3 linked regions of the Homo sapiens genome follow. The protein of the gene in region 1 interacts with the protein of each later gene in a pairwise test. Each region holds a gene or a part of one and is shown on either strand. Other genes may lie near its edges. The genes, in order: DHX15, PINX1 and DYSF.

What was found.
Region 2: the proteins of DHX15 (region 1) and PINX1 interact in a two-hybrid assay, tested with the Homo sapiens proteins (one large-scale study listed by BioGRID and IntAct).
Region 3: the proteins of DHX15 (region 1) and DYSF interact in a two-hybrid assay, tested with the Homo sapiens proteins (one large-scale study listed by BioGRID and IntAct).

What each region holds. Positions count from the first base shown.
Region 1 is NC_000004.12:24,526,954-24,529,985, reverse strand, and holds the end of DHX15 (ATP-dependent RNA helicase DHX15), read left to right. Parts: intron 1-215; coding exon 216-385; intron 386-1,944; coding exon 1,945-2,062; 3' UTR 2,063-2,511; downstream 2,512-3,032.
Region 2 is NC_000008.11:10,829,876-10,833,375, reverse strand, and holds part of PINX1 (PIN2/TERF1-interacting telomerase inhibitor 1), read left to right. Parts: intron 1-391; coding exon 392-484; intron 485-1,632; coding exon 1,633-1,711; intron 1,712-3,500. UniProt on the Homo sapiens protein: Microtubule-binding protein essential for faithful chromosome segregation. Mediates TRF1 and TERT accumulation in nucleolus and enhances TRF1 binding to telomeres. Inhibits telomerase activity. May inhibit cell proliferation and act as tumor suppressor.
Region 3 is NC_000002.12:71,571,113-71,574,854, forward strand, and holds part of DYSF (dysferlin), read left to right. Parts: intron 1-3,085; coding exon 3,086-3,259; intron 3,260-3,742. UniProt on the Homo sapiens protein: Key calcium ion sensor involved in the Ca(2+)-triggered synaptic vesicle-plasma membrane fusion.

The sequences.
Region 1 (3,032 bases):
TTTGGATTCACAGACCTTACAAATAGAGGCTATGAGTTGGATTTGGCCCACAGGCAGCAGTTTGCTTATCTCTGCTTTTATCAGACAGTGATAAATAAGTATAGCCATAGAATGAAAAGTAAAAGGGAGGCCTGCCTCTTCCTAATTATGTAGGTAGCTTTACAACTAGCAAGTCAGAAGCATTGTATTAATAATATACTGGGTTTTGGTTTCAGGTGGCACATTTAGAACGAACAGGGCATTACTTAACTGTGAAAGATAACCAGGTGGTTCAGTTGCATCCCTCTACTGTTCTTGACCACAAACCTGAATGGGTGCTTTATAATGAGTTTGTTCTAACAACAAAGAATTACATCCGGACATGTACAGATATCAAGCCAGAATGGTAAGTACACCTTTTGTTCTAACAGTTTTTTGTTAGTACTTTGCTCAAAATGGAACCTGACTGTTGCTAGAGTCATGGCCTTGCATTCACTCATTGAGAATTTATATTTCAGTGTGTAGGTATGAGGGAATTGACTGGATGGTGTGATTAATCTTTCACACCCTTCCTTTGTTAAGTGGACAGTGGGATTGTTGATATTTATGGGCAGGATTTGAAGCCAAATGTGAAGTTACATTTGAATAGCATGAAAAGTTTCTTCAGGGGCTGGGCATGGTGGCTCACACCTGTAATCCCAGGACTCTGGGAGGCCAGGATGGGAGGATCACTTGAAGCCAGGGGTTCAAGACCAGCCTGTGCAATATAGCCAGAATCCATCTCTACTAAAAGATATATAGGTGTGTACAAAAATTAGCTGGGCATGGTGGTGCTGCACGTCTATAGTCCCAGCTACTGGGGAAGCTGGGCAGGAGGATTGCTTGAGCCCAGGAGTTTGAGGTTGCAGTGAGCTATGATCATGCCACTGTACTCCAGCCTGGGTGACAGTGAGACCCTGTCTCTCAGACATACTTTTAAAAAAGGGTTTTTTTTTAATTTTTTTAATTTTTAGAGTTTCTTTGGAGCCATTCTCTTGCTGTTGTGATTCTCAAGTCAGTACTGTTTCTTGCTTGCAGAAATCTGTTTTTTTTTGTTTTGTTTTGTTTTTTAACATTTTTTTTGTCCCATTACAATTAGCCCTCAACTATTTATTATTTATATATTGGTTTTTAGGAACTGTGCAGGCATAAAAATGATAGCTCTTTGTGTTTTAACATACTAGCTTCTACAAAATGTAGAGTAAGAACGGATTGTTTTATTTTAAGCAAAATAACCCTCACCTTCATGGTTTTTTGTTTTATTTATGCCAGAATCTATTCTATAACCTATGACAGGAAATGTCAGCCAAGAGTAGTGGGACTGAAGGCACATATTCTAGGTGCTGTCACCGCTTTATATTGTGCAGCTGCTTTCTTATACGGATTTGGGACTTTTGACACTTAAATTGTGTAGGACATTACCATTTTATCTTAAACGCTTTGTTGAGAAAAAAATTATATAGCTAAACTTTATAAAAGATTTCAGTCAAGTGTATTTTGGGGGTATAGAGTTACAGTTATTAAAACATTGAAAATGAAAAGATCCAATCATTTGAATACCACGATGTTTCCTACACAGAACCTGTTATATATTACTATATCCTTGGAGTGGCAAATTAATAGTGTGCCAGAGTAAAGAAATCAGTGACTTTATCTGTTATCTTTACATTAATGTATCTTGAGGGGTTTGTTATTAAGTTTATGGTAAGTCCAACATCAGAAAATTCACATCTTACTAAATAAAATACTTAACACATTTCTAAAAGTGCTATTTGTAAGGATTAGTTATTTGTATTTTTCTGAGACTTGAATTCATAGATTTGCCTTGGTTCATCAGTATATTAATGAATAATGCCTATCCTATTAACAACTCCAGTACTTCAATTAAATGTTAATTTGGAAATTTTTCTGCCCACTTCTAAACAGGTTGGTGAAAATTGCCCCTCAATATTATGACATGAGCAATTTCCCACAGTGTGAAGCAAAGAGACAGTTGGACCGCATCATTGCCAAACTTCAATCCAAGGAATATTCACAGTACTGAATTCAGTGCTTAGAACTGAAGTTATTGAGAGGACAGCTTTAAAAGATGAATGAACTCAAAAGTTCGAGTTGTGCTCTTCACGTTGGTTCGATAATGGCCTTTATTTGAAAGCTTTTTAATTTTTCTTTACAGTAAATATTCCATTCTGATTTCATAAATTAAACATTTATGCCTCCCTTTTGTGTTGACACTGTAGCTCATACTGGAAAAGTCGATCAATGTTTTGCAGTTTATTGAAAGTAGTTCTATATATAACAATGTTATAAGCATTTCTTTAGAAATGGTTGAAAATGCTTCTAAAATGTGATTATCGACCATGGTATGCATGATCGTTGTAATTGTTGACATTCCTTTTAGAAGTTGTGAAATGTTACAACTTGTGCTTATGTAGACACAATCTTCTGTCTCAGTACAGAGGCACTGACTTCAATAAAGTCTATTTATACTAATTTTGGCCAAAGCCCTTTGGTATCTTTGTTCTAGTCTCTAAGTATAGTTGTTTTTCAAGTGTGGAGCTTTTTTATTATTATAATTATACTGTTACTACATATTTAGTATCTTTCTACCAGGAGTACTCCTTAGGAAAAGTAGCTGTTAAAGCAGTATTTTTAAGAGCATGGCTTAGCGCTTTGTTAGGTTAATCAGGATGTGATCGATCTAAAAGGGGTAAAATGTGTGTAGTGATCATTTGAAACTGGACCCCAAAAGAGAGAATAATGAAAGGAGAGCTCTCTACTTGTCTTTCTTAGAGTTCCTTTCATAAGGCTCATAATTTATTAACTACATTTTTGTCAGATGTTTTTATTATACTTCTAGCTTCTCAAACACGTTTATTAGTATTAGGTAAGAGGAAAGCATATTTTAGATCTCAGTTTAACAAAATTCTTAGTGATGGAAGTTTTATGCAGTATACAAAATAATTTGTATAGTGTGTTAAAATGTACATTTGACCTTCCATTTTCTATGACAG
Region 2 (3,500 bases), on another chromosome or scaffold:
AAAGACCAGTGGTTTTCCATTGTCTTTAAAATAAAATCCAAATTCCTCCCGTAGGTTATGTGAGATCTAGCCCCTCCGTCATCCTACTTCCTTCATTCCTTAATTTGCAGAAGCCACCCTGGGTGCCTCTGAGGTTTCCCAGTACACTGAGTTTTTTCCCACCTTCGGGTCTTTGCACTTGATCTTTCCTTACCTGGAAAATCTTACAGATGAGTGCTAATTGATGCAGAGGACTTAGAGTCCTCCCCCATGTTGCTTTGTGAAAGTATTTAATGGAGAGAATCATCAACTCAGAACACCTGCCGTAGGCATCTGTGAGTTTTGTAGCAGTGCTCTGCTTCTGAGTATCAGTGAGAGGAATGTTCTAACTCTCTGTGTTTAATCTCCACAGGGTTTAGGGGCTCAGGAGCAAGGAGCCACAGATCATATTAAAGTTCAAGTGAAAAATAACCACCTGGGACTCGGAGCTACCATCAATAATGAAGTGAGCAGCAGTGTGTGCCTCCTGGGTGTCTTTGCATAATTGGCTTCAGTCTTGTAAATCTGAAAGTTGATTGGTTCATCTGCTTCTGACCATTGGTGCAGCACTTCTTTTTATTCACGTTTCCTCTTGAACACTGACGCTTTGAATGCATGGCACTATAACTCAGAGTCAGTGGCCTACCGCGCTTTTTATTTTTAGTATCATTGTTCCCTTTTGGAAAGGATCTAAACTGAAAAGTTTTGTTTCTAAGTTTTTGCAGCCAACATAATCTGGTAGGGAATCTGGGAAATTACTTTAGGTAAATTGAATTACTTTGGTTAGTTCCGTATCTCTGAGTAGTGGATTGGCGGAGCTAAAATTTTTAGCCACTAAAGAAAGAGTTTATATAAAGTTGATTTCAAATGTAGTTGTTGAGGGATAGATAACACAGATATACTTATTTTCTTAGAAGAAGCATTGCCCAGTAAACCTATTTCATATTCCTTTACCTTAAGCATTCTTAAAAATTGCTAAGAATGTGAGTAAGGCAGATTCGTACACTGAAACCCTGCTTCCCACTGGTTTGGGAGATCTTCATTCTCTTATAAAAGCCAGGTTCATTTTTTTATAATAAACTTATTAGGTAACCACCTTACAAATGGGAACTCATCGATTCAGGGGACTTAAGGTTCTTCCTCCTCCCCTTCCTCAGAGTTTTGTAAAATTGGAGTTGATGCAAGTCATTAGAAGATTTTAATTCTACCAAGCAAAGAAGAGCATTTTTTTGTCCCGCATGGTTCTTGTCCTTTCAACTATGGAATTTCCCCTAGTGAGAAAAAAATAGTCATTTCATTATGTTTTACTTTAACATTTAGCACACAGGTTGCCTGTTGATTATTTACTATATATTGACTTGATCGATAAGTCATTCACATTTGAAATCAGGCCTTAAGCTTCCAGGAAGCCCCTTTTTAATATTGACCTGGATAAAGAGCATTTTAACTTTATATTATTTCTTGAATCCACTTAAATTTATCAAATAGTATTTTGATGGAACATTTAAAATTTCTTAATTAACCACTGGATTTCCTTGATTCCAAAATGTATCATCTCAGTCAGTGTAAGTAAACTACAGGCTTACCTCTCGTTCATTTCTTTGATATTTTCAGGACAACTGGATTGCCCATCAGGATGATTTTAACCAGCTTCTGGCCGAACTGAACACTTGCCATGGGCAGGAAACCACAGGTAGGGAAATCAGATGACATAAGTTCTCAATGCAAATATGTTTATCTACTTTTTGTTTTTTGCTTTTATTATTTTTAGTTGACACATAATTATACATATTTATTGAGTATAGTGTGATATGTCAATACCTGTGCACAATTTGTAATGTACACATGTGTTATGTTCATCAACGTAATTAGCATATATATCACTTCAGACATTTATTATTTGTGTTGGGAGCATTTAAAATCTGTTCTTCTAGCTATTTGAAAATATAAAATAAAATATTATTTATTATAGTCACCCTACAGTGCTATAGAACACTAGAGCTTTTTCCTCTTATGTAGTGGGACTTTTATATCCATTAGCCAATCTTTAGCTGTTCCTACATAGCTGTTTTCCTTACGCAGCTCTAATAACCACTATTCTGCTGTCTACTTTTATGAGCTCAACTCTTTTAGCTTTTCCATATGAACGAGAATATGTGATATTTATCTGTGCCTGGCTTATTTCACTTAATGTCCTCCAAACTCAACCATGTTGCCTCAAATGAAAAACTCTCATTCTTTCGTAAGGGTAAATAGTATTCCGTGGTGTGTATGCACCACATGTTTCCCAGTTCATGTGTTGGTGGACACTTAGGTTGATTCCATATCTTGGCTGTTGTGAATAGTGCTGCAGTGAACGTGGGTTTGCAGGTACCTCTGCAACATGCTGATTTCCTTTCCTTTGGGTAATGCCTGGGAGTGGATTGCTGGATCATATAGTAGTTCTATTTTTAACTTTTTGAGGAGCTGCCGTACTGTTTTCTGTAGTGGCTACATCAACAGTGCATAAGAGTTCCAATTTCTCCATATCCTAACCAGTAATTATCTTTTATAATTTTGATAATAGCCATCCTAATGGGTGTGAGATGATGTCTCATTGTGATTTGGATTTCCATTTCCCTAATGACTGATGTTAAGCATCTTTTCATCGCTTATTGGCCATTTTTATATCTTCTTTGAAGAAGTGTCTAAGTACTTTGCCCATTTTTTAATTGGATTTTGTTGTAATCTGCAAGCATTTTTATAAACATTCTTGTTTATGAACAGTCTATTCCTTGTGTGTCATGTGTGAATAATCAAAAGATATTTGGTAGATTGAAAGAATTTTGTGGAGTGAAATAATGAATTAGACTTGAGTTCAGCAAACATTTATTGAGCTGTGTGCTGGGTACTAGTTTAGGTGTGAGGATCTGCAGAGGTATAAGACACAGTCCTGCTTGGAGGTAGCTAGCAGAATATGCTGGTAATTACCTGGTAAAATCACAGCACACATCTAACCATAGGAAGGTTTATTGCAGTGACGTGTGTGGAAGTGAGCCCAACAGTGTGAAGGGAAAGGTGCTTTGTTGGTATTTTTTCTAACCAGATTGGACTTTTTGTTGGAATGTATAACTTGGACAGTTTTCCTTATCCATAGGATCATGATTTTGAAATAACCTAACAGTTCTGTGTGTGGTCCTAATATGAAGGGCAATAATTTATTAGCAGAAGAAAAAGATAAGGAAAATGTTTTCTGAAAATACTGAATGACTCATATTAGGAAATGCAGGATCTATGAAGTAGTAAAGTTCAAGGACACTATTCCTTACTAATTATACACAGAAAACATCTTGATATTTACGATCACAGTTGAACTCAGTAGAAACACAGATAAGAATGTAAGCTTGGCTGGGCACGGTGTAATACCAGCACTTTGGGAGGCTGAGGCGGGCGGATCACCTGAGGTCGGGAGTTTGAGACCAGCCTGACCAACATGGAGAAAC
Region 3 (3,742 bases), on another chromosome or scaffold:
CAGATCACACCCACAGATCACACCCAGCGCATGCACAGATCACACCCAGCACACCCAAAGATCACACCCAGCACACACACACAGATCACACCCAACACACCCACAGTTCACACTCAGCACACACAGATCACACCCAACACACCCACAGTTCACATGCAGCACACCCACAGTTCACACCTAGCACACACAGATTACACCTAGCACACCCAGCACACGCACAGCTCACACCCAGCACACCCACAGATCACACCCAGCACATGCACAGATCACAGTCAGCACACACAGATCACACCCAGCACACACAGATCACAGTCAGCACACACAGATCACACCCAGCACACACACAGATCACACCCAGCACACACACATCACACCCAGCACGCACAGATCACACCCACCACACACAGCTCACACCCAGCACACACACATCACACCCAGCACACGCACAGATCACACCCACCACACACAGATCACACCCAGCACACACAGCTCACACCCAGCACACACACAGATCACACCCAGCACATGCAGAGATCACACACAGATCACACCCAGCACACCCACAGATCACACCCAGCACATGCACAGATCACAGTCAGCACACACAGATCACACCCAGCACACACACAGATCACAGTCAGCACACACAGATCACACCCAGCACACACACAGATCACACCCAGCACACACAGCTCACACCCAGCACACACACATCACACCCAGCACATGCACAGATCACACCCACCACACACAGATCACACCCAGCACACACAGCTCACACCCAGCACACACACAGATCACACCCAGCACATGCACAGATCACACACAGATCACACCCAGCACACCCACAGATCACACCGAGCATGGATCACATCCAGCACACCCAGCACAGATCACACTCAGCACACACACATTACACCTAGCACACCCACAGATCACACCCAGCACACACACAGATCACACCCAGCACACCCACAGATCATACCCAGCACACCCACAGATCATACCCAGCACAGATCACACCCAGCACACCCACAGATCACACCCAGCATGGATCACACCCAGCACACCCAGCACAGATTACATCCAGCACACCCAGCACAGATCACACCCAGCACATGCACAGATCACACCTAGCACACCCACAGATCACAACCAGCACAGATCACACCTAGCACACCCACAGATCACACCCAGCACACAGAAATCACACCCAGCACACCCACAGATCACACCCAGCACAGATCACACCCAGCACACCCACAGATGCTTATAGACAGACACACTCAGATGCCCATGATTACAGAAGGTCACATGCAAAGTTCACACACCAACCTGGAAGATGGAAAGACACCCATGGACTTTGTCTTAGGCTGGGTTTCCTGGAGGCAGAAGCTAAGACGTAGATTTGGCTGCACATTATTGGGGCAGTGCCCTCGGGAGTGTGAGGAGCAAGGATGCAGCTTCAGGCAGGTCAGCTGTGGCCTGAGCTGTGGCCTGGGGAAGTTCACAACTCGGAACACCACAGAATCCTCACCTGGAGGCAGGGCTGGGCTTTGTATCCTCTCAGCCATCTGTCTAGGCTTGGGGTTGCTGGGGTGAGCTGGGGCACATACCTATCTCTTCAGTGAGGGGGTTTCCTTTAGCATGGGGGTTCCCTGGAGCAGGTGGCTTCTGGGAGCTGGGAGCTGTCGATGCTGATGGCAGCTGGGGATGGGTGCGCCACACGTGTACATTGGCTGGTGAGGGGGCTGGGGTGGGCCCCGTTGGCATTCATGCAATGCAAGCACACATGCCCACAGTTGAGCACAGATGCCATGGGATACTGTCAGGCCCATCGTGCACATGGATGAGCACACGCAAGCACATGCACTTGCTCCGGGGTCACACAGGGGCCTGTGCACTGCACAGCCTCTGTGCCCGCCTGTCCTGGACCTTCTTGGTCTATGATCTTCCTTCCTAAACACACATTTGAATTTTGGCTCAAGAACCAGACCTCCCTTAGTCCAGGAGTAGCCTGTGGCATGACCTAGGTTCCTTCCTTTCTCCTTGGGGGCAGAGAACCTAGAGAGGACTCTTGCTGGCTCCAGGGAGGGGCAAGGCTTTTGGACAACCAGCTGTTCCTGGTGCTGTGAACCAGACAGATTCAACTTTCTCCCTGAAGGGGCACCCAGCAGACAGAGGCAAAGCCTGCCCAGGCTCATGTGCCTTGCCCACCACCCCACAGCCAGCATCCTTCCTGGAGAGTGGCACAGCTGGCCTCCAGGACTGGCCCTTGTCACTGTGCTCCTGGCCCAGACCTGAGGTGGTGTCTGACAACAGTGCCAGGTCACCCTCTCCCAGGAGCTGAATGGCAAGGGGGCTCCCGGGACTCCCTTCAGGCCCAGGAAAGGGACCCCATGAACGAGGTACAGGGGTGCCTCCATAGCTGAGTTGGGTCTAGCTCCCAGGGGTGAAATTGGCTGTGGTTGGGAAATAGGATCTTCCTTTTACCTCTGAGCTGCAGACCCACTACAGGATGTGAAGATGAAAAAGGAAATGACAAGAAAACTTTGGATTCATGAAATCCACCCAGAATTCAAACAAATAAGCAAGTTAAAAGCCCAGTGTTTTCGTCACTGCGTCAGCCTACCTTCCTTTCTGGCTGTTTGGTTCTTCCCGCAGCCCATGGAGCCTCCTCTCCCCTCCTGATTTTTCTTTTTCTTTTTTCTTTTTTTCTTTTCCTTTTGAGATGGAGTCTCATTCTGTCACCCAGGCTTGAGTGCAGTGGCGCAATCTCGGCTCACTGCAACCTCCACCTCCCAGGTTCAAGCAATTCTCCTGCCTCAGCCTCCCTGGTAGCTGGGATTACAGACATGAGCCACCATGCCTGGCCTCCCCTCCTGATTTTCTGACCTGGGGTTCCTGTGGCTGCAGAAAGCCCCTCTCCTCTAGGTGGCCCTCCCAGGTTTTCCCACCTGGAGGGCACTAGTGTGGGAGCTGGTGGGGAGTTGTCATGGAAGACAGGAAGGCAAAGGTGGAGCCGAGCACAGAACTCCCCCCAGCCTTCCCACCGGCCTCTGAGTCTGCCCCTTCTCTTGTGCAGCACAGGCAGGCGGAGGCGGAGGGCGAGGGCTGGGAGTACGCCTCTCTTTTTGGCTGGAAGTTCCACCTCGAGTACCGCAAGACAGATGCCTTCCGCCGCCGCCGCTGGCGCCGTCGCATGGAGCCACTGGAGAAGACGGGGCCTGCAGCTGTGTTTGCCCTTGAGGGGGCCCTGGTATGTGGGGCTGCACTTGTCCTGGCTTGGGTAGGGTATATCTTGGTTTCCCAGGGCTGTTCGGGCTGATGTGGGAGAGGCACAGGGACCCCAGGTTAGGACTTTTGGATGGAACGCTGGCTGGTCATCCTGGCGTCAGTACCTGTGGGGTGGCATGTGGGGAAAGCAGCCCCAGTCTGGGTGTTCTTCTAAAATGAAAAAGCTCCTTCCTTGGCACTGAAACACTTGCTGCTACTACTTTGAGGTGTCAAGATGAAAGCAGAGGGGAAGATGGCCTTGGCCGTCTGGCTGGCCTGTGCCTGGCTGGCTGGTGTGAAGATGGGCGAGGAGGCCCATGGGAGGAGTGAGAGAGTTCTTGTGGCCCCAGAGTGTCCTTGGTTGCATGTGCATCCTCTTGAGGCAGAGACCATCTCATGGTCATCCCCAGCAATTTTGGGGAAGAGGTGTGCCTTAGAAGCTGAGCCCCAGGATGACTTTCCTGCC